Linked DNA regions of Homo sapiens. The protein of the gene in region 2 purifies or fractionates together with the protein of the main gene of each other region. This does not show direct contact. Each region holds a gene or a part of one and is shown on either strand. Other genes may lie near its edges. The genes, in order: RSF1, SHCBP1, WDR11, EOGT, MOV10 and MSANTD2.

Evidence for each region.
Region 1: the proteins of SHCBP1 (region 2) and RSF1 fractionate together in Homo sapiens (co-fractionation; one large-scale study listed by BioGRID). This does not show direct contact.
Region 3: the proteins of SHCBP1 (region 2) and WDR11 fractionate together in Homo sapiens (co-fractionation; one large-scale study listed by BioGRID). This does not show direct contact.
Region 4: the proteins of SHCBP1 (region 2) and EOGT purify together in Homo sapiens (affinity purification with western blotting; one study listed by BioGRID). This does not show direct contact.
Region 5: the proteins of SHCBP1 (region 2) and MOV10 purify together in Homo sapiens (affinity purification with mass spectrometry, with the first as the bait; one large-scale study listed by BioGRID). This does not show direct contact.
Region 6: the proteins of SHCBP1 (region 2) and MSANTD2 purify together in Homo sapiens (affinity purification with mass spectrometry, with the first as the bait; one large-scale study listed by BioGRID). This does not show direct contact.

Annotation. Positions count from the first base shown.
Region 1 is NC_000011.10:77,674,223-77,677,722, forward strand, and holds part of RSF1 (remodeling and spacing factor 1), read right to left. Parts: intron 2,778-3,500; coding exon 2,570-2,777; intron 1,035-2,569; coding exon 814-1,034; intron 1-813. UniProt on the Homo sapiens protein: Regulatory subunit of the ATP-dependent RSF-1 and RSF-5 ISWI chromatin-remodeling complexes, which form ordered nucleosome arrays on chromatin and facilitate access to DNA during DNA-templated processes such as DNA replication, transcription, and repair.
Region 2 is NC_000016.10:46,611,380-46,614,879, reverse strand, and holds part of SHCBP1 (SHC SH2 domain-binding protein 1), read left to right. Parts: intron 1-3,500. UniProt on the Homo sapiens protein: May play a role in signaling pathways governing cellular proliferation, cell growth and differentiation. May be a component of a novel signaling pathway downstream of Shc. Acts as a positive regulator of FGF signaling in neural progenitor cells.
Region 3 is NC_000010.11:120,864,862-120,868,361, forward strand, and holds part of WDR11 (WD repeat-containing protein 11), read left to right. Parts: intron 1-185; coding exon 186-351; intron 352-768; coding exon 769-883; intron 884-1,707; coding exon 1,708-1,903; intron 1,904-2,204; coding exon 2,205-2,308; intron 2,309-3,500. UniProt on the Homo sapiens protein: Involved in the Hedgehog (Hh) signaling pathway, is essential for normal ciliogenesis.
Region 4 is NC_000003.12:69,000,185-69,003,684, forward strand, and holds part of EOGT (EGF domain-specific O-linked N-acetylglucosamine transferase isoform a precursor), read right to left. Parts: intron 1,531-3,500; coding exon 1,424-1,530; intron 1-1,423.
Region 5 is NC_000001.11:112,677,659-112,681,158, forward strand, and holds part of MOV10 (helicase MOV-10), read left to right. Parts: intron 1-3,500.
Region 6 is NC_000011.10:124,769,407-124,772,906, forward strand, and holds part of MSANTD2 (myb/SANT-like DNA-binding domain-containing protein 2), read right to left. Parts: intron 1-3,500.

The DNA.
Region 1 (3,500 bases), on a different chromosome or scaffold from region 2:
AAGGATGGCCAGAGTCTGATACTCATATCTATGGTTCTTCTCTAATAAGATGACACCTATCAATTTGCCAATTACATAAAGCATTCATTTCTTGTAGCGGTTGAGCCTCTATTTACTCACTTAATAGGGATAAGCATACTCTATAACAACATCAACTACTGTTAATCTGTAAAAACTACTCAACACTGACTGTGGTCTAAATGAGAGTTAACTTGTATTCTTCTCTCTCCAACAGCTGGGCATCTGAGGGAAATGTTCACAGTTTATTGAGAATGATTTCCAAGAAACCCTATGAAGATGAAGGTTTAGGAGTGGAAACATTTGACAACCAAGGAGTCATCACAATCCTACTAGGCATCTGATATGAAGTTAACGTATCAATCAGTATGTATTTTCTCAGATGTGCTTTCTATGAGAAAAATTTAGTCAGAAATAAGTCTTAAGAACAGAATTTTAAGAACTCTTAACTCCAGAAGTCATAAGAATTTGTTGAGCTGGCCAGCGTGCTGGCTCACGCCTGTAATCCCAGCACTTTGGGAGGCTGAGGTGGGCAGATCACCTGAGGTCGGGAGTTTGAGACCAGCCTGGCCAACATGGAGAAACTCCCTCTCTACTAAAAATACAAAATTAGCCAGGCATGGTGGCACATGCCTGTAATCCCAGCTACTTGGGAGGCTGAGGTAGGAGAATCGCTTGAACCCGGGACACAGAGGTTGCAGTGAGCCGAGATGGTGCCATTGCACTCCAGCATGAGCAACAAGAAAAACAAAAAATAATTTATTGAGCTACCATATGGTTACAGATTATTTTTACCAGAGTCTCTACTATTCTCCTCAGATTCCTCCTCTTCATCATCATCGGAATATTTTTTCTTTGGGGTCTTTCTTCGCAAACGCCTGCTCTGCCTCATTGGCCGAGAGGGGTGTCGCCTCAGTCTACGGCTACAAAAGTCAGTGTCACTGTCATCATTAGATGGCGGATCTTCTTCACTTTCATCTGGGTTTTCATCAGACACAACAAACTCATCTTGAGATCTGTCCAAGAGAAATCAGATAAAATACAATGGTATTTAGAAGAGTGAACCCATTTTTAAGAGTTCTGAGTTCAAATTCTGGTGAGCCCAGTGAATCATTAAGTATAGTGCAACATATCTGGATAATTGTATCAAATGCCCTATTTATAAAATGGGGAAAATGTTTTGCCACCTATCCTCTTAGGAGGGGTTGTAAAGATGAATTAATGTTGATTTCTGTACTGCTTTGACCTCTTGGGATGTCCCCCATGTTAAATTCGACATATTCAAAAGTGAATTCATTATTTCCCAATCTACTTCTCTCTTCTGTTCCCTGGCCTGGTATTTGGCACCATCACTCATCCGGTAACTCCAACCAGAAACGTGGTATTTATCCTAACTTTCCCCTTTTCATTTCTCATATCCAATAAATTAATAATTTCTCTAGAGTCTACCTCTTAAAAGATAATCTCTCAAACCTGATCTCTTCTGTTTTCAGCTTTTCATACTCACCTTAACTACAAAAGCAACTCCACAAATAGTTTCTCTAATATCTGGTCTCATTTCCCCTCAATCTATCCTCCAAATGAATGCCAGGATGAATCTTTCTGAAGCATAAATCTCATATTAATTTAGTGTTTAAAACCCTTCACTGGTTTTGTATAATTTTCAGGATAAAGTCAAAACACTTATGCATGACAAATAAAACACTCCCTAATCTGGCTCTTTTTATCACTTGACCACATCTCCAGTAGGGCACTCTCTACTTCATCCCCTTATTCCTGCTATCCAGAGCCAACAGGAGTTTCCCAAACATTCTATGACATTTTACGGCTTGCTGTCTTGGACATGTGACTTCTATGCTTAGAATACCTTTTTCTTATCCTGCTTTTAGTCTCATACTTGTTGATTCCAAATACTCATTCTTCAAATTTCAGATCAAGCTTTACTTCTACTTTAAGGTTTACTCTTTGGATTAAGCCAACTTTCCTCTGTAGCCTAATTTATCTTTCCCTGTATTTTAGTAGCAGTTATGCAGAATGACTTTTTTTTTTTTTTGTGGTTTATATACTTGTTTCCTCTTCTAATAATCTGAAAGGAGAAACTCTGCAGTATTGTTTCAATTCCAACTCTGCAAAGAAGCCTTTCTTGATCTTCTATACTGGATTACCAGTCCCAAGTCCAACTTCTATGAGTCATGAGAGGATAATATCTTATTTATTTTTCACATAGGACTGGAAACCCCTCATGGACCTGGCAGAAGGTGGCACAGAGGTACAGAGAAAGCTCTCAACAAATGAAAGTTTAATTGTAGTTAGTAAAATTTAAATACAATTTTGAATGTTAAACAACCATAAATCTATTTTCTGTTCTAAACTTTAAAAATGGGCCAAAATTAGTATTCTTGAATCTGCTTTAAATATCCTGAAAATAAACAGAGGTTGTCTATGTACATGAAGAAGAAAACCCTCATCACAGCATGGGCAAGCCTCTCTGCTAGCCCAGTCCTGTTCCTGCTGGTATCTAGGGATCGGGGCCTAGTAGGAGACCACACACCCATCACTGATCTTGAATTCATCCTCGCTCTCTTCTTCATCCAGGTTGCTATCACTGTCCAGATCATTTAATCGCCGGCGTTTCTTCCTTCGAGCAGCAGCTGCCCTCTGGGGTCGTTTATTTTCTTTTCTTTCTTCATCCAAAATAGTAGAGATGTCTTTCCCACGATGACCTGTGATGGTGGAGATATCTTTTCCTCGGCCAACTCCTGAATTTGGGGGAGGGAAGTTCGGGGAGAGAAAAATATGTGTTTATTAAAAGCTTCCCTTTAATTTCTAGAGACAGTCCTTATTCATGCTTAGCAGCTCTTCATTTCTTTATTTTCTTCCAACAAATATGCAGTTTTCTTATGACTTCAGCTGACAGAGGTCTCAGAGTTTTAGCATTCGTTTACCCTACTGAAGAGAAGTTTACTATGTAGGGAACCTCGTTTTTTAAATTTTTATATAATTCACACACCGCAATATTCACCCTCTTAAAGTGTACAATTCAGACATTTTTAGTATAGTCACAAAGTTGTGCAACCATCACCACTACCTAACTCCAGAACATTTTCATCACCCAAAAAAGAAACCTCATACCTATGAGCAGTCACTCAAGAATCTCTTCTTGAAAGCTGTCTTTTGGACAAGGCTTTAGAAAGAGGCCAATAGAGTTTTTAAAAACAGTGTTTGCAGGACAGAAAAAGTGAGAATTCAGCAGCAAAAATGTAAATAAAACATACATCTCTGGAAAAGCCTTAAACAATCTACTTATTAATCTTTTCCAGAGTTTTCATAATAACTAAGTAGAAACCAGAATGTTCCATATTGGAGCATTGGCTAATAGTGCTTTAATTAAATTACCTTCAAGTTCTTCTATTTTAATGCCACTTACTAAAGACTATGAAATTAAGAAACCAATTTTTAATAGGTTAACTTAAAAATTTTTG
Region 2 (3,500 bases):
TCACAAATGTTAACAAAAGTAGGGGATTCTTAATTGGGTTTGTATATATTTATAAACTGACTTAAAAGTTGTGGATGTTAAGGCTTATGGTCGGTATATTTCAATACAAGAGTACAGAAAGTAGAAGAAGAGAAAGACAGTGAAGAAGGTTATATACTATGGTGTGTGTACTGCTAAAAGACGAATACACATTTTTTTCAAGCATATGTCTGGTCAAAGCAAGTGTTTTCTTAGGCTGCTTCTAGGATCCTTAGGGGATGTATTCCTGCCTGTGAGTCTTTTTTGCCATAGTTATTTCCACTGCACAAGTGGACCCCTTGTCCCTTCCTTGGGAAAGAAAGCCCATACCTGGATCAGTGGGTATGATTTCAACAATTTTTCAGATCAATCTTTTATTGGATAGTTCCTGATATAGATAGTTATTTTGTATCTTCGCCAAAGAAGGCTTACTTGTAGCTATTTAAAAATAGACCCATATTCCTTCAGGAACTAGAAGACTGAGCAATATATAATGACCATAATGTAAATAACATTGCTTGGTGTTTTGTAGTATAAAAAGTACTTTCTATTTTCTATACCATTAGTGAGTTAACGTGGTTTTGCTGAGCTTAACTCGAATGCTCTGCAAAGAAGCAGAGTGTTTCAGGCCCTGCTGCCAACATCTTACGGACAGTTTCTAATTGTATGCAAGAACATTTAACCCTAGATGTTCAGTATTGGGCCAAGCAGAATGAATCTAAAGAACCGGTTTCTGTCCAGAACCAAAATAACTCCCTTCTATTTTTCTCATTAAAAAAAATCTGTCAATTGAAGCATTTGAAGATAAAGTGATAACTGATAAGTTTAGGAAATTAGGAATCAGGGAGCTAATCTCTATGGGCATAGAAGTTCGTGGAAAAATAAGTATCTGGAATGTTATTTGGTAGTATTATTTGAGGAGGAGCCTGGTTAAATTTACACTTCATTTGGAGGGCTGAGATTTGGATCAGTGCCCAGTGAAGGTCAAATTATGAGGGATTTCATTTGTTCGTTGATTCAATGAATATTTGAGTGCCAGGTCCTTAGTCAAGGATGGGGTATGTCTGGTGCATGAGACACACCATCATCAGGGAGCTGTCAGTCTAAAGGTGGGAGATGAGCCTTGATGAAATAATCACGCACAGATGTCTGCATGATTGGAAATAGCAGTGAGTGCTGTGATGAATTACAGAGTGTCCTAAAATTAGGTCAAGTTGCTGTTCTAGGGTTATTTACTGGAATAATGACATTTGAACTTGGGTTAGCTGTGTGAAAGGGGAGGCAGGGGTGGGGAAGGGAAAAGATTTGGGAGCTCAGTGTGTTTAAGGAGCTGAAAGGCCAGCATGGCTGGAACACAGACAGTGCTGAGAGAGACCTAGGAAATGAGATTAGAGAGGCTGGCAGGGGCCAGACAGTGCGGGGATTTGTTAGCTGGTTAGTCATTTTTGTCTTTAAGAGCAGTGGGAAGCCACTGAAGGATTTTTATTCTTGGGTGAATATGACTAGTTTTGTGTTTTGTGTTTTTGTTTTTTTGGAAACACGGTATTATTCTGTTGCCTAGGCTGGAGTACAGTGGTGCAATCATGTGATTCAATGCAGGCTCGAACTGTGGGGCTCAAGGCATCCTCTTGCCTCAGCCTCTGGATCAGCTGGGATTATAGGCATGTGCCACCACTAGCCAGCTAGTTTTTTAACAACATTTTTCTGTAGAGATGGGGGTCTCGTTGTGTTGCCCAAGCTGGTCTCGAACTCCTGGGCTCAAGCAGTCCTCCCACCTCAGTCCCCTAAAGTGCTGCTTTGTGTTTTCAGGGGTTCATTGTGGCTTCTGTGTAGAAAACAAATGGTGGGAGATGGAATTGGTAGACCAGTTAAGACGCAAGAGAGAGGACTAGAGTGGGGATATAGAGAGGACGGATGGAGGCTTACTGAGAAAGTACAATGGCTGGACTTGGTGGTCGAGTGGATATCAGAGATGAGAAGATGTAAGTGAGGTGAGAGAAGTCAAGGCTGACTTCCACATTTCTGGCTTGAAAGAATCAACACTGCGGGAGGTACAGAAGGGAATGATGTGTAAATGCTTGGCATGGTACTGGTGAGGATGATATTGGAGCCGAGTCATGGAATAGAACTATAAGCTTACCAGGTGGAAAAGGTGGAAGGCACTTCTGGCAGCTTGACTAACAAGTTACATGGAGGTTTGAAAGAGCTTGTGAAATTGAGAGTTTAGGTACAACGGCTCTGAGGCAGGAGAGGCGCAATAGGGCCAGATTATGAATCTATTTATAGTACCACGTTCAGGACTTCTTTTTGAGGGCTAAAAGGGAGCCAGCAGAGGTTTTTTCAATCGAGTAGAGGCATGCTTAAGTTCATTACAACAACAACAACAACAACAACAAAAGACTCCACTAGAGGGTGAAGGGACTAACAGCCCAATCTACAATAATTAGGAGATGGCTGGTTTCATTTTCAGTGCTTCCTTTTCACAGCAGAACTTCTTGAAAGAGTTATATATAATCACAGTCTATACTTCCTGGTGTCTCAGTAACTCTTCTACCCTGACCTCATCTCTGAAATTATGCTCAAAGACTTCCATGTTCTTGTATTCAGTCAACGTTTCACTGATCTCATCCTGCCTCTGATCTCATCTTGCTTAACGTCTTGACATTCTAGGTATTTGATCATTCCCATCTTCTTCACACCCTCTCCTCTCAGCTTCTGGGACACCACTGTTCAGCTGGTGTCTTACTGGCTTGCTTTCTCAGTCATCTTGGCCAGCTTTTCCTCTCATGCTCAAACTTTAGAATGTCAGAGTTACCCAGGGATCAGTCCTAGGCCATCTACTGTTTTTTCCCTAATCAACCTTGGAACCACTTTGGAATCACCTGAGGAATTTCTTTATAAAAGTATTCCAACCAATACATGAAGAAAGTGATAGAATATCAGTATTTTGTAACCACTAATGAAATAAAGGTTCTAGACAGTGAACATCGATGACTGCTGCAACCATTAGGGAAAGAGAACTTTATAGAGGGTGGATCAGGTTGACAACCTGTATCTGTTGATCAATCTGAACCTCACAAAAAGACATGGCCAGGCATTGTAATAAAGTCCTCAGTTACTGTTGTTGGTAGGTTCTTAGAAACTGTGATGTTAATGAAACCAATTTTACCATAGGCTGACTGATATAAACAAAAGTTAAAGTTTCTACAGCATATTTCTGGTCATGAAAACATCATCAAACTTCTAAATAAAGACCCCAAACAATTCTAATCTTAAACATTGAAATAAATGTGAACTATATATACATTAAGAAATATTAATGCAAACAAGATAATTATTGACCCAATTTCCAATTTTTGGTGAAACAGTGAGTGACAGTGGTCATTGTGGTGACGAGTAAATCAAGGAATAAATGTTTGCAAAGCGGAAATTATAAGGAGCACCTCCTGCCATCACCCACTTCAAAACAATGACAAACATAG
Region 3 (3,500 bases), on a different chromosome or scaffold from region 2:
ATTAGCATTTGGATTTTGGTACATAGTAGAGATCTAAGTTTTGGATGCCAACCCATGTTGGTCACTTCAGGGAATAGTTGTACATTTTTATTGTCAATTTTTATGTGTAAAGTACAAAATTAAATCTTTTATTAGGTCTGATATAAATGAAGTCTTTGACCCAAGTGAATGTTTACTTTTTTCAGTGCTGAATTCATAACTCTCAATGATTGCCTTCAGTTGGCATACCTGCCTTCAAAAAGGAATCACATGTTGTTGCTCTATCCTCGAGAGATTTTAATCCTTGACCTTGAGGTGAATCAGACGGTGGGTGTGATTGCAATAGAACGCACAGGAGTTCCATTTTTACAGGTATCTACAATTCATAAATTATATTCCCCAAAATTATTAAGAATGTTATATTAAAAGAAGGCCATAATCTTGCATAAGTCTTGTCTTCAGTTCTCCACTTTCTCTTTTCAATTTATCAAAAGACTAGCAACACTATTTTAGATTGTTTTTTTTGTCTGCACTTTTGATTGGTTTGATTTACCCTAGAAATTGTGACTGATCCTGAGATATTTATTGAACTATTTAAGTCACATGGGTAAAGACAAATTATTTTAGGATTATAAATGGATATTTTAAATGTACATTTAGTTTTAAAGTTTGGGATTTGTCTATTTTTTTTTCTTTTGCCCATATTATCTAAATATGAGTTTGAGTTTCACAGTATATACTTTATTAATCTATTGTGTTTTAAAAAATAAATATATCATCTATTTAAAGGTAATACCCTGCTTTCAGCGTGATGGTTTATTTTGTCTACATGAAAATGGTTGTATAACTTTACGTGTTCGAAGATCTTATAATAACATTTTTACCACTTCAAATGAGGAACCAGGTGAGTTTCTGTCTCACAATAATGTTATATTTTTCTTCAAAATTATTTTATAAAGCTTGATGTGGCAAATACCAGCCAAGGTATATAGTTAATGATACTCCTTGCTTTGAGGAAGTTTAAAATATGGTTATAATAAGAGGCATAAAAAGTATAAGCCCAAGATTAATCTCTTGATGTTAAAACAGTGCACCTCCTGTATACATCAAAGAGAGTAAAATTTTGTGTTTCTTGATCATATCCATGAGCCAAGTAGATATTATTTTTTGGAATTTTTTTTTTTTTTCAGTACAAGTCCAACCTTGTGTGCCTTTATTATTATACCCCCTTGACTTGTTGGCTGTAAGAACTTCCATTGTAAAGTGACAGAGGTTATTAAGTCTCAGTTGTCAAGTCAGTCTTATCTTGGAGAATGGAAATAATGTTTTTGTGAAATTATATACTGTGTAAAGATCAAAGTGATTTTCACATCTTTTGGAAAGTACAGTTATTTTCAGGCTTATAGACTACTACAAATTATGATGGAAATTTATTCATTAATTATATATCACTGTTGATCCTTTTTCAAAGTATCGTCTTTATTTTAAAATATTGAAAAAAGATATCTTGATTATAGTTGTTATTTTGGAAATTAAACTTAGTACAGTCATTAAGTAAATTATATTTGGAAAAAATTTAGTAGTAATTGTAAAAAGTGAAGCCATGCTTGACATTGCATTCATGAAGGAGTGATGCCCAAATTTAGTTGAGGTTTTATTTAAATTGAAACAAACAGTAGTGGTATCGATATGGCTGCTTTCTGATATTTAAAACAATTTTATGTGAAGATCCAGATCCAGTTCAGGAGCTTACCTATGATTTACGAAGCCAGTGTGATGCAATCAGGGTGACAAAAACCGTCCGTCCCTTCAGTATGGTGTGCTGTCCTGTCAATGAGAATGCAGCCGCCCTCGTAGTGAGTGATGGCAGGGTCATGATATGGGAACTCAAGTCTGCAGTTTGTAATCGAAATTCACGGAACAGGTAAATGAATCAACAGGATCATGGTTTTGTTTTTTGTTTCCTGTTTCCTTTTATAAAAAATTTCCATAATCATAAAAATAGGAGGGCTGGTTTTCTATAAAAATATTTTTAAGGTAATAATTAAGGCTTTAGATTATTAGGGAATTATGTAAATCTGCTAGAGCTATTTCACCTATGGGTAAGATGAATGAATAATATAAAAATAGATAGAATGCCATAATCTGGACTTAATACTTTGAATTCCTAATACGTAATGCAGATTTTAAGTATGTAAAACCTTCTAATTATTATGTCTTTGCAGTAGTTCTGGTGTGTCACCTTTATATTCACCAGTGTCTTTCTGTGGAATTCCTGTAGGAGTGCTACAGAATAAACTCCCAGACCTTTCCTTAGATAACATGATTGGTAAGCTTTTTTCCCCTCTAACTCCATGTTAAGTATTCTTTCTGAAGGGCAAAATTAATAGAATCACTCACTTGTAATTATTTTAAAGTCAAAAAAGTTAATACTTGAGAAAACTAGAACATGGAATCATTCTTTCCTAAATAAATCAGAGGGGTTTAAAATACTTAGGTAGAAAAGTGCCTGAAGTAGCACGGGTTTGCATTATAGTTGTTAGAAATAGAAAACGTTCATTCGTGAGAGACTGATGTAAATGAAAGCAATGACATTAGGCATCTGGATTTTGGACCTAGAGCCGATGCTGAGCTATGCCATGCCAACTCAGGGCCTTGCTGTTTGCTGGTTCCTCAGCTTGGAATGAAGTACATGCTTCCTTTCTGTCTGCTACTCCTAATTCAAAATTCAACTCAGATGTTGTTTTCTTTAATCTCCCAAGTCTAATTTAAATGCTCTTCTTTTGTTTTTCCTAACAGTTATCAGCATATTTTAATTGTGGGTTTTTTTCTTCTGTTTCATCTCATCAATTGTAAGCATCACAAGGGTGGTACAGTGTTTGATTCTATTTTGTCTTTCCCAGCACTCAGCACAGTACCTTGTGCATGCCTGTTTTGTAGTAAATATTTACTGAAGGAATAAAGTAACTGAGCAGTATTAGAAAAGATTATTTTAACTTTTTGACATGAATTATTTTTATGTTGGGGATTCTTTCAAAAAATCATTTTTGGAGATAAAGTGTTCAAAGTTATTTAATTATGAGGCCAGTATGTATTAAAGGAAGAATGAGAGTTTGTGATTTCAAATTTTATGCTACTTGAAATTATAAGGCTTTGTAAATATGCCAAGCAATTTGGACATCTAATTTTTTTACAGTTGTGGCTATGGTTTATAAAGGATTTTCTGTTTTATTATTTATTCTACCATAATATAATTGAAAACGATATTATTTAGGAGGGTTTTTTTGTTGTTGTTGAAACGCTAAATAAGTGATGCACTAGAAAGAGCATTGGCCAGGCGCAGTGACTCACGCCTGTAATCCCAACACTTTTGGAGGCCGAGGCGGGAGGATCACTTGAGGTCAGGAGTTCGAGACCAGCCTGGCCAACATAGTGAAACCCTGTCTCTACTAAAAATATAAGAATTAGCCAGGTGCAGTGGCATGTGCTTGTGGTCCCAGCTACTTAGGGGGCTGAGGCAG
Region 4 (3,500 bases), on a different chromosome or scaffold from region 2:
CACTGTACTCCAGCCTGGGCAACAGAGCAAGACCTGTCTCTAAAGAAAGAAAAGTAAAATTGGAAGACAGCATAAATTAGAAGAAAAAAGTAGAGTTATGAATATAGGAAAGAAATGAGACATGTCTACTCTAGCCTATTATTCTCACTTTATATACTTTATTGTATAAGTATCTGCATAAATTTAATAGCTCACACATATTTGCCACTTTTACAGACGGATCAGTGTTTTCTTTGCCCCTTTTTAATTTGCATGTTTTAAAAACGAGTCAAAACCTGGAACATAGCATTTTTACTCGCTTTTATTTCAAAAACCTAAACTTGTCTGATTTCTGAATTTAATACTTTGTAATATAAGAACTATGACTTCAGAAGGCAGAGCACATTAAAACTATGATCAATAAATTATACTAATTCTGAAATATTTGTGACAGAGGCTCTCTATATTTCACTGTAAACCCAACCTCTCATGAATTTTGATATGATCTAGCACAGTAATCCCTGTCTCTCATAATGAAAGAGATAATATAGTACAATCTGTGTTTCTCCTCCCCAGTGTAACTAGTTCGCAAAGTTAAAGCTCTGCTTGCAAGCTGAGAAAGAGGCTATAAGTATAAATGATAAAATAATTTTAATTTTATGTCAAGAATAAATTACACTGGTAACTTCCAGAAGAATTTTAAGTTCACTTTAGTCATGGAAATGATACAGAAAGTTTGTCAGCGCAGGTCATGGACACTTCTTTCCCACCCATACTATACACATGGCTTTTGATTTTTTTTTTTTTTTTTTAAGACGGAGTCTTGCTCTGTCACCAGGCTGGAGTGCAGCGGCACGATCTTGGCTCACTGCAACCTCTGCCTCCTGGGTTCAAGCGATTCCCCCGCTTCAACCTCCCGAGTAGCTGGGACTATAGGTGCCTGCCACCACGCCCAGCTAATTTTTTGTGTTTTTTTAGTAGAGACGAGGTTTCACCATGTTGGCCAGGATGGTCTCGATCTCCTGACCTCGTGATCTGCCTGCCTCGGCCTCCCACAGTGCTGGGATTACAGGTGTGAGCCACCGCGCCCGGCTTAGCTTTTGATTTTAAACATCTTAATGAAAGACAATCTAAACCAAGTGATTAGAGAAACCAGATGAGGTAAATTTAGTTACAAAAGGCATAAATATGCCTTCACCTCTCGTCCTTTGATTTTGGTTAAGTCCTTTGATATAAATGTGAAAGTTTCTTCTAAAATGCCCAAGTTATAAAATAATGGGAAGTTCAAATTAGTTCAACTACTTCTTCAGAGAAGAAAGCAAAAAAAACAAATCTACTGTTTGTCATACTGCTTCCAAAAAATTCAGAGAGAATTACTACATCCAAAAAAAGGAATAATATCTCATTAACAAATACACAAATAACAGAAAAAGTTATTTCTCACCTGCATCTAATTTCATGAAATATGTTGGTTTTTCAATGACAATGTCACATTTAGCATCTTCTATAGGTCTGAAGTTGAGCTGAGTATAGCTTTGTAGCTCAGCAAACCTGAAATTATGAATTGGGACATGACTTCAAACTGATTCTCCCAAACTTCCTATTAGAACACTGTAACTTAGGATCTGTTCATTAGGCAGATTTTACCTCTAAATGGTACAGACACTCCTATGGACACCTGTAACTTCTAAAACTTACTGACTTTTATATAGGTTGATATCAATTTTAATGTTAAGACAAGGAACAGACCGGGTGCAGTGGCTCAAACCTGTAATCCCAGCACTTTGGGAGGCAGAGGCAGTCAGATCACGAGGTCAGGAGATCAAGACCATCCTGGTCAACACGGTGAAACCCCATCTCTACTAAAAATACAAAAATTAGCTGGGCGTAGTGGCGAGCGCCTTTAGTCCCAGCCATTTTCAGGAGCCCGAAGCAGGAGAATCGCTTGAACCTGGGAGGCAGAGGTTGCAGTGAGCCGAGATGGTGCCAAAAGGAGCCGAGGCTTACAACAACCTGAGTGAGTTTAGCAGCAGATTCTCCAGGCCCAGGTTGAGTCTAGAGATGGCTACAGCCCTGGCCAACTCAGCCAAGCTGCTCCCAAACCCTGACCCTCAGAAGTACTGTGAGATAATAAATGTTTGTATTTTAAGCTGCTAAATTTTAGAGTCATTTGTTATACAACAATAGGTAATAAATATAAATATACCCTAGGGTACACTTTGGAATAGCCTGTCACACAGCAATAAGCAACTAATACAATTATGCCCTGAGCAACTACCATGTGGAATCAAATATCAGAAAGTACCAGGAATCAAAAAGCCCACTTGAATATAGAAACTACCTCTTGTAAAAGTCTGCTAAGTGACTTGAGACATTGCATTGCAGACTGCAAAATCCCAGATAAATGTGTGGTAGATCATTATTCTGAATGATCTGCAGCCAGGCAGTGAGGCCTCTTTAAGGACAAAAAAAAAAAAGGTTTGCTCAGCATGAATTTCTTTTTTTTTTTGAGACAGGGTCTTGATCCATCGCCCAGGCTGGAGTGCAGTGGTGCAATCATAGCTCACTGCAGCCTCGACCTCCTGAGCTCAAGCAGTCCTCCCGCCTCAGCCTCCCAAGTAGCTAGGATTACAGGGGCATGCCATCTCGCCCAGCTAATTTATTTTTATTTTTTATTTTTCTTTTTTAGAGATGAGGTCTCATCATGTTGCTCAGGCTGGTCTTGAACTCCTGGCTTCAAGTAATACTTCTGCCTTGGCCTCCCAAAGTGCTGTGATTATAGGCATGAGCCGCCATTCCTGGCCTTGGTATGGACATTTGACCTTACAAATTAACATTATGTAAGTAACCTATGTGACTATACAGGAGTAGCAGGAGAGTTTCTTTGGGATGATGGAACAATTCTGCATCCTGATTGTGGTGGTCGCCCTCCCCGTCCTCCTCCCCCTCTCTCTCCCTACCTACATACCCGCACCTACACAAGTGATAAAATTTTAATGAGTACAGGTAATTGCTGGTAAAACCTGCACAAGTTAATACTACTGTACCAATGTCAATTTCATGGTTGTGATCATTGTGCCATGGTTATATGAGATATTATCATTAGAGGAAGCTCAGGGAATTAGACAACGTACAAGTTCTCCTTGTAGTATGATATGGTTTGGCTGTGTCTCCACCCAGATCTCATCTTGAATTGTAGCTCCCATCATGGGAGGCACCCGGTGGGAGGTAACTGAATCATGGGGGTGGGTTTTTCCTGCGCTGTTCTCAAGATCTGATAGTTTTATAAAGGGCAGTTCCCTCTGCACACGCTCTCTTGTCTGCTGTCATGTAAGACGTGCCTTTGTTCCTCCTTTGCCTTCTACCATGATTGTGAGGCCTCCCCAGCCATGAGGAACCATGAGTCCATTAAACCTCTTTCCTTTGTAAGTTAGTCAGTCTTGGGTATAATACATACTATTTTTAAACTTCTATGAGTCTAAAATTATTTTAAAATACAAACTTTTTAAATTCAAAAAGCT
Region 5 (3,500 bases), on a different chromosome or scaffold from region 2:
CTGTCTGCAGTCCCCAGCATAGAGCTTTGTATGTAGTAGATGCTCAATAAATGCTTGCAGAATCTAAGTGAACTAGCAACTAGAGTTAACTAACAAGAGAATGGGCCATATAGCGGGGGGTATAGCAAGTCACACTCTTTAGGAATTCTAGGAGATTCCTACACTGAGAGGGGATAGGTCTCTCCAGCTAGGTTATTTTATGATGTTATAAAGTGCTCTGCTCTGAACTCTTGCCTTTTCCCACCTACCTTTATTCATTTAGCAAATATAGTTAATGAGGCTCTACTGTGTGCCTGTGCCTTGGTCCTTGCCTCCAAAGAATATAATCTAGTAAAGAGCAGCAGATATGTGTAGACAAACAAATGCAATACAGTAGTATAGGTGCTAGTAATGGTGTTTAGATAGCCCTGCCATTTAGTGGTTGCATTTAACTTTGAACAACTCTCTAAATTTTCCATTTCCCCAACTGTAAGAGTATGTAAAATAGTACCTTTCTCTCGGGGTTGTGAGAGACCAAAATGAGTTGTCCTAGGCAAAGCATTTGTGTGGCTAGCATATTACACTGGCTTTGTTAAGTGGTACCCCTCATTAGTGCGATGATGATTAGGAGTCCATTGTATGGGGTAAGGACTGATGTCACGAAAAGGTTTCTGAGAGAAGATGATTCTTGCTTTGGACAGGAGACTCATTCTTCTACAAGTACTGGCTGAGTGCTTCCTATGAATGGCAAAGCAAAAGTGAGTTGCTAGAAATATACAAAAGGAACCCAACTAACTAAGGAAGGAGGCAGCAGTTAGATAATTATTTAATTACGGTTGTGATGAGTGCTTGTACAGAAAAGTCCAGTATGCATTGAGAGTATATAATTTGGAGATCTGTCCTAGTCTAGCAACCTAGACTAGATCAAGAAACTTAGGCAGAGGTTTCTTGGGGAAAGTGATATTTGAGTAGAATCTTGAAGGATTAATGGGACTTAGAAGGTGTAAAGGGCAAGGGTAGAGTGTACAGGCAGGAACAGCACCTTCAAAGGCTTGGGATGACCTCAGAAGAACGGGAGACCAGCAGGGCCCTGGGTAGGCATTGTGAGGTGTTTTGTTTTGTCTTTAATCTTAATGGAAATAGGAAAACACAGAAAATTTCAAAGTAAGAGTCTGACGTAATCAGATTTAGAAAGATCATTCTGGCTTCTGGCGTGGAGAGTGGCTTGGTGGTTGGACCTCTACCCACAGTAAAAAACACATTTTACTTTGGGACCTGGCATACACAACCTTCACAAAACAATGCCTGCCCTTGAAACAATACATAGTTTCACTCCCTGCTCTCTGATATTTTTTATTCTATTTTATTTCAATTTTATAAAAACCCTGGCTTTGACCCGCTAATGGGAGTTGGAATCCATAGTCTATAGATTGTGAAACTAGATGTCTCTTTAAGATCACTTCCAAATCTGATCATATGTGCTGAAATACCATTCCTCTAGCTTTTGGCCTTTCCTGAACTGGGTCTAAAAAGATTAGCCATTGTTCACCCAACAAACAGCAGGGGCGGCCTAAGGCAGGGCAGTGCAGGCTAAGGATGTCCACAGCACAGAAGTCTGCAGAGGGGCACAGTGATACAAGTAGTTGGGAATGGCTGAAATAAGGATGGATTGACAAGAGGCCAAGTGTGGTTGAGGATGTGTACCTCAATTTCTTTTTCTCTAAAATGGGATGATAATAATTACTACCTCAAAGGGTTGTTTTGAGGATTGAATGAGATAATGCATTCAGGAAACGTTTTCTGTTGATGTTATTGTATTTGCATTATCGTTGTTACTATGGAGGATCTTGGAAGGTGCCATATTAAAGACTTAATTTTGTGGACTATGGAGTTGTAAATTGAGGGAACAAGATCAGATTTGTGTTTGATGACAATTCTGCAGATATAGGGGGTGGCCTAGTGTAGGGGTATGAAGCCAGAGGTAGGGAGAACAGTTAACTGGAACCTAGAAAATTGAGCAAGGGGTATGATCAGGCAGCTCACAGAAGAAATATAAATGACTAATAAAAGAAGGAAAGATCCTTGACTATATTGGTGATCAGAGAAATGCACAGTTTAAAAAGATAGGAGTTTTTGTAATCAAATTGTCAAAAATTTAAAACATTGAAAATTTCTGATGTTAGAGCTTTGGGAAAAGGGCATTTTCTAACTCTTGTTAGTGAGAACATAAATTTGTACAACCTGTTTAAAGGACAATTTGGCAGAACTTATCAAAGTTGTAAAGGTTCATTCTCTTTGACCCAGGTGTTGTACTTTAAGGAATTTATCCCATTAGACTTGCCTACAAGTACAAGGGTTTGTGTGCAAGGATAGTTATTGTAACATTAGGAGTAGCCAGAAATTTCAGGCAGCTTGTCTATCACTAGAGAAAAAAACACACCATGATGCATTCATACATGCTATCTTTTGTAGCCATTCAAAAGGTCATGGTGGTTCTGTAAAGCATTGTTATGGGAGAAGATCCATGGTGGGAAGACGCCTGCTGCAGAATAGTATGTGTAGCATGTATCATCTCATTATTGTGTTTTATATGCATAGAAAAAAATCAGGAAAAACATACATCAAATAGTGGGTTTAATTAATTGCTCCTAATCAAGCAAGTAGTTGGAAGCAAGGGAATTAAGGGCTTTAATGTTTTATGTTAGATACTTGTTTAAATGTTTTAAAAATACTTTTGGGCCGGGCGCGGTGGCTCACGCCTGTAATCCCAGCACTTTGGGAGGCAGAGGTGGGCGGATCACGAGGTCAGGAGATCGAGACCATCCTGGCTAACACGGTGAAACCCCATCTCTACTAAAAATACAAAAAATTAGCTGGGCGTGGTGGCGGGCGCCTGTAGTCCCAGCTACTCAGGAGGCTGAGGCAGGAGAATGGCCTGAACCCGGGAGGCGGAGCTTGCAGTGAGCCGAGATTGTACCACTGCACTCCAGCCTGGGCGACAGAGTGAGACTCCGTCTCAAAAAAAAAAAAAAAAAAAAAAACTTTTGGTGATCACCTTTTCATTTATCTCTTTTTTTTTTTTTTTTTTTAAATCTCTCTCTGTCACTTAGGCTGGAGTGCAGTGGCACGATCTCAGCACACTGCAACCTCCACCTCTCGGGTTCAAGCAATTCTCCTGCCTCAGCCTCCCACGTAGGTGGGATTACAGGCGTGAACCACCATGCCTGGCTAATTTTTGTATTTTTAGTAGAGACGAGGTTTCACCATATTGGTCAGGCTGGTCTTGAATTCCTAACCTCAGGTGATCACCTGCCTTGACCTCCCAAAGTGCTGGGATTACAGGCGTGAGCTACTGCACCCGGTTCATTTATCTCTTTTTGCAGGCATGCTTATATCACACCTACATAAGTTTACACACGTGGGATCATTATCACATATCATTTTTATTGTGGACCCCTCCCCTTATGGGCATCCAACCTCCATTTCCACATTCCGCCCTGTACTCAGGTACCTCTTGATAT
Region 6 (3,500 bases), on a different chromosome or scaffold from region 2:
CAGAGGAGACAAAAGCACTTGGTCAATTTTATGATGTCTGATTGTGGTGCTTATGAGGCTAAGACATAGACCATATTTCTGCATAGGTCGATGCTTTAAAGGAAAATTATCTTTCATAGCTACCATCTTTCCCTGCCCTCCTTTGAAATGTTTTATTGATCTTACAGAGGACTATGCTAAGGAGTTGGGATGGAGAGCAGAGATTTTTGTCTATTATGCTCAATGAAGTATCCCAATGCCTGACATATAGTAGGCACTTGAGAAACGTGTGTTGAATAAATGAGCAGACTAGGGGATTAGCCAGGTTCAGCTAATCCCACCTATACCTACAGAGAAAAAGAAATCCCATGCCCAAATCACGTTATTTTTTTCAGCATTGTCATGGCACTAATGCTATAGTCAGACCCTGCAAAGAACCATTTTAAATAAACTCTTGCACTGGAAAATAAATGGCCTACCCAGATCTTGTTCAGAATCTCTCACCCTGAGAGCTAAAACCTGGAGGAGAGGCAGCACAGGCTGGATATTTCCTCAGAGTCTGTCAGTTTCCTGCCCTGCTGATATGAGCCTGAAGCTGATTTGGGCTCAAGATTCAAACCAGCATTTCAAAGCTCTGGAGCACAATGAAAACTAGACTCAGTTATTTAAACAATTCCTGAGAACTGTCTGTTAGATTTCCTGGTTTTTGAAGTTCCAATCACCAGAAAAGTTTAAGTGGTTTGAGATTGGTGACATGAAATCCATAAAATTTGAGTTCATTCCTAGTTATACCAACTGGGCCTCCCTTGAAGGTCCTGAATGATTATAAGGAAGAGATAGGACACTTTAATGAAAAAGCCAGTGACTTTTTTGGAGAATAAAGGTTTGAAGGTATACATTTGTAATAACTCTTTTTTTTTGTTTGTTTGTTTTTTTTTTTTTGGAGACAGGATCTTGCTCTGTCACCCAGGCTGGAATGCATGACTCACTGGAGCTTTGACCTCCCAGACTCAAGTAACCCCCCACCTCAGCCTTCTGAGTAGCTGGGACTACAGGCATATGCCACTATACCCAGTGAATTTTAAAAATTTTTGTGGAGATGAGAGTCTAGCTATGTTGCCCAGACTGGTTTTTAATTCCTGGGCTCAAGCAATCCTCCCGCCTTGGCCGCCCAGGATGCTGGGATTACAGACATGAGCCACCGCGCTTTGCCTTGTAATAACTCACATTTTTTTTTCGAGACAGAGTCTTACTCTGTTATCCAGGCTGGAGTGCAGTGGCACCATCTCGGCTCACTGCAACCTTTGCCTTTTGGGTTCAAGCAATTCTTGTGCCTCAGCCTCCCGAGTAGCTGGGATTACAGGTGTGTGCCACCACGCCCAGCTAATTTTTTGGTTTTTTTTTTTTTTTTTGAGACAGAGTCTTGCACCTGCGTGTCCTGGGTTCAAGCAATTCTCTTGCCTCAGCCTCCCAAGTAGCTGGGATTACAGGCACCCGCTACCATCCCTGGCTAATTTTTTGTATTTTTAGTAGAGACAGGGTTTCACTATGTTGGCCAGGCTGGGCTTGAACTCCTGACCTCGTGATCTGCCTGCACTGGCATCCCAAAGTGCTGCAATTACCGGCATGAGCCACTGCACCCAGCCTAATTTTTGTATTTTTAGTAGAGACAGGGTTTCACCATGTTGGACAGGCTGCTCTCAAACTCCTGACCTCAAGCGATCCACCCACCTTGGCCTCCCAAAGTGCTGGGATTAAAGGCGTGAGCATGAGTCACCACGCCCAACTTACTTTTTACAACATTAATCAGTTTCCCTTCCTTTGGTACACTTTGATGTCACACTCCTAAAAGACAACTACTTCCCAATAAGAAATGGCCTTAAACTTACTGATGTGGGCGATTAGCTTCTTTTTTGAGGAATGAAATAATGGCTACAATTTGGGGGAAAAACTCCTCATCCCTGAACTCTCACCCTCTTTCCAGACATGGAATCAGATGACAATGGGAATTCTTTGATTCCAAAGAGAGACTCTGAAAAAGAAATGAGCATTTACAAAGGGGAGGTGGTAGTGGTGTCTTGCTGAATAAAAACAACTAATGTGGCCGGACACTGTGGCTCACGCCTGTAATCCCAACACTTTGGGAGGCCTAGACAGGTGGATTACTTGAGGTCAGGAGTTCGAGATCAACCTGGCCAACACGGCAAAACCCCATCTCTACTAAAAATACGAAAATTAGCCAGGCATGGTGACGCGCCTGTAGTCCCACCTACTCGGGCTGGAATTACAGGTGCTCACAGTGAGCCAAGATTGCACCACTGCGCTCCAGCCTGGGTGATGGAGTAAGACTCTGTCTCAAACAAACAAACAAAACAAAAAACAACTAATGTTTTCTTGTTGTGCTGCCTGTTACCTATCACAGCCCTTTTTGCCTCTTCTCTACCATCTCTCAGACATCAAGATCACATGTGTGGGATGAAGCACTCAAGAATAAGTGGGTGCTATCAATGCTCCAAGGTTAACAGGTAAAAAAAATGAATGGCGTTCCTTACTTTCCCCATAAATTTTCGGTCAGTATATTCTCCTCAGTAATTGTATTTAATCAGGGACTCACTTAAAGCTATTAAAAAGAACCACAAATATGATGTCACTGGTAATTCCAAGAACTATGATGTCCTTGCACAAAAGATAATGCTAAACTCGGGGAAGATCAAATTGTATGGACCAGGGAGGACTCTGTCCCTGGACTTTCTTAGTCTTTCCTCTAGCAACTGCTTTCTTCTCCAAATGTATAATAGGTCATCTAAGAGCTTTCTTTTTGATTCCCAAAATACTTCAGGTGTCCCTCTGGTCCGCCTATCATTTCACCTAACCTCAGATAAACTCAGGTTCCTGTGACTCATCTTTGTGCCTTAATTAAACATCCAGATGTCCACATCCACACACAGGCAAATACCAAAAACACATCTGTTTTCCTGTAACACATTTATTTCTTCTATACAAAATTCTCAACATTTTAGATAATCACTGGAAGGGTTAAGCTAAGATACGAAAGAACGTATAGACATCTGGCTGGGTGCGGTGGCTCGCGCCTGTAATCCCAGCACTTTGGGAGGCTGAGGTGGGCGGATCACCAGGTCAGGAGATCGAGATAATCCTGGCTAACACGATGAAACCCCATCTCTACTAAATGTACAAAAAATTAGCCGGGCGTGGTGGCGGGCGCCTGTAGTCCCAGCTACGCTGGAGGCTGAGGCAGGAGAATGGCGTGAACCTGGGAGGCAGAGCTTGCAGTGAGCAGAGATTGCACCACTGCACACCAGCCTGGGTGACAGAGCGAGAGCGAGATTCCGTCTCAAAAAAAAAAAAAAAAAAAAAAAAAAAAGAACGTATAGACATCACAGTTCCTGGAATTACCAGTGATGCTATGTTTGTGATGCTTTCTAATAGCTTTAAGTGAGTCCCTGATTAAATCTAAAGAATGAATAGACATGCCTCCTTGGTGAATGGCCGGAACTTTC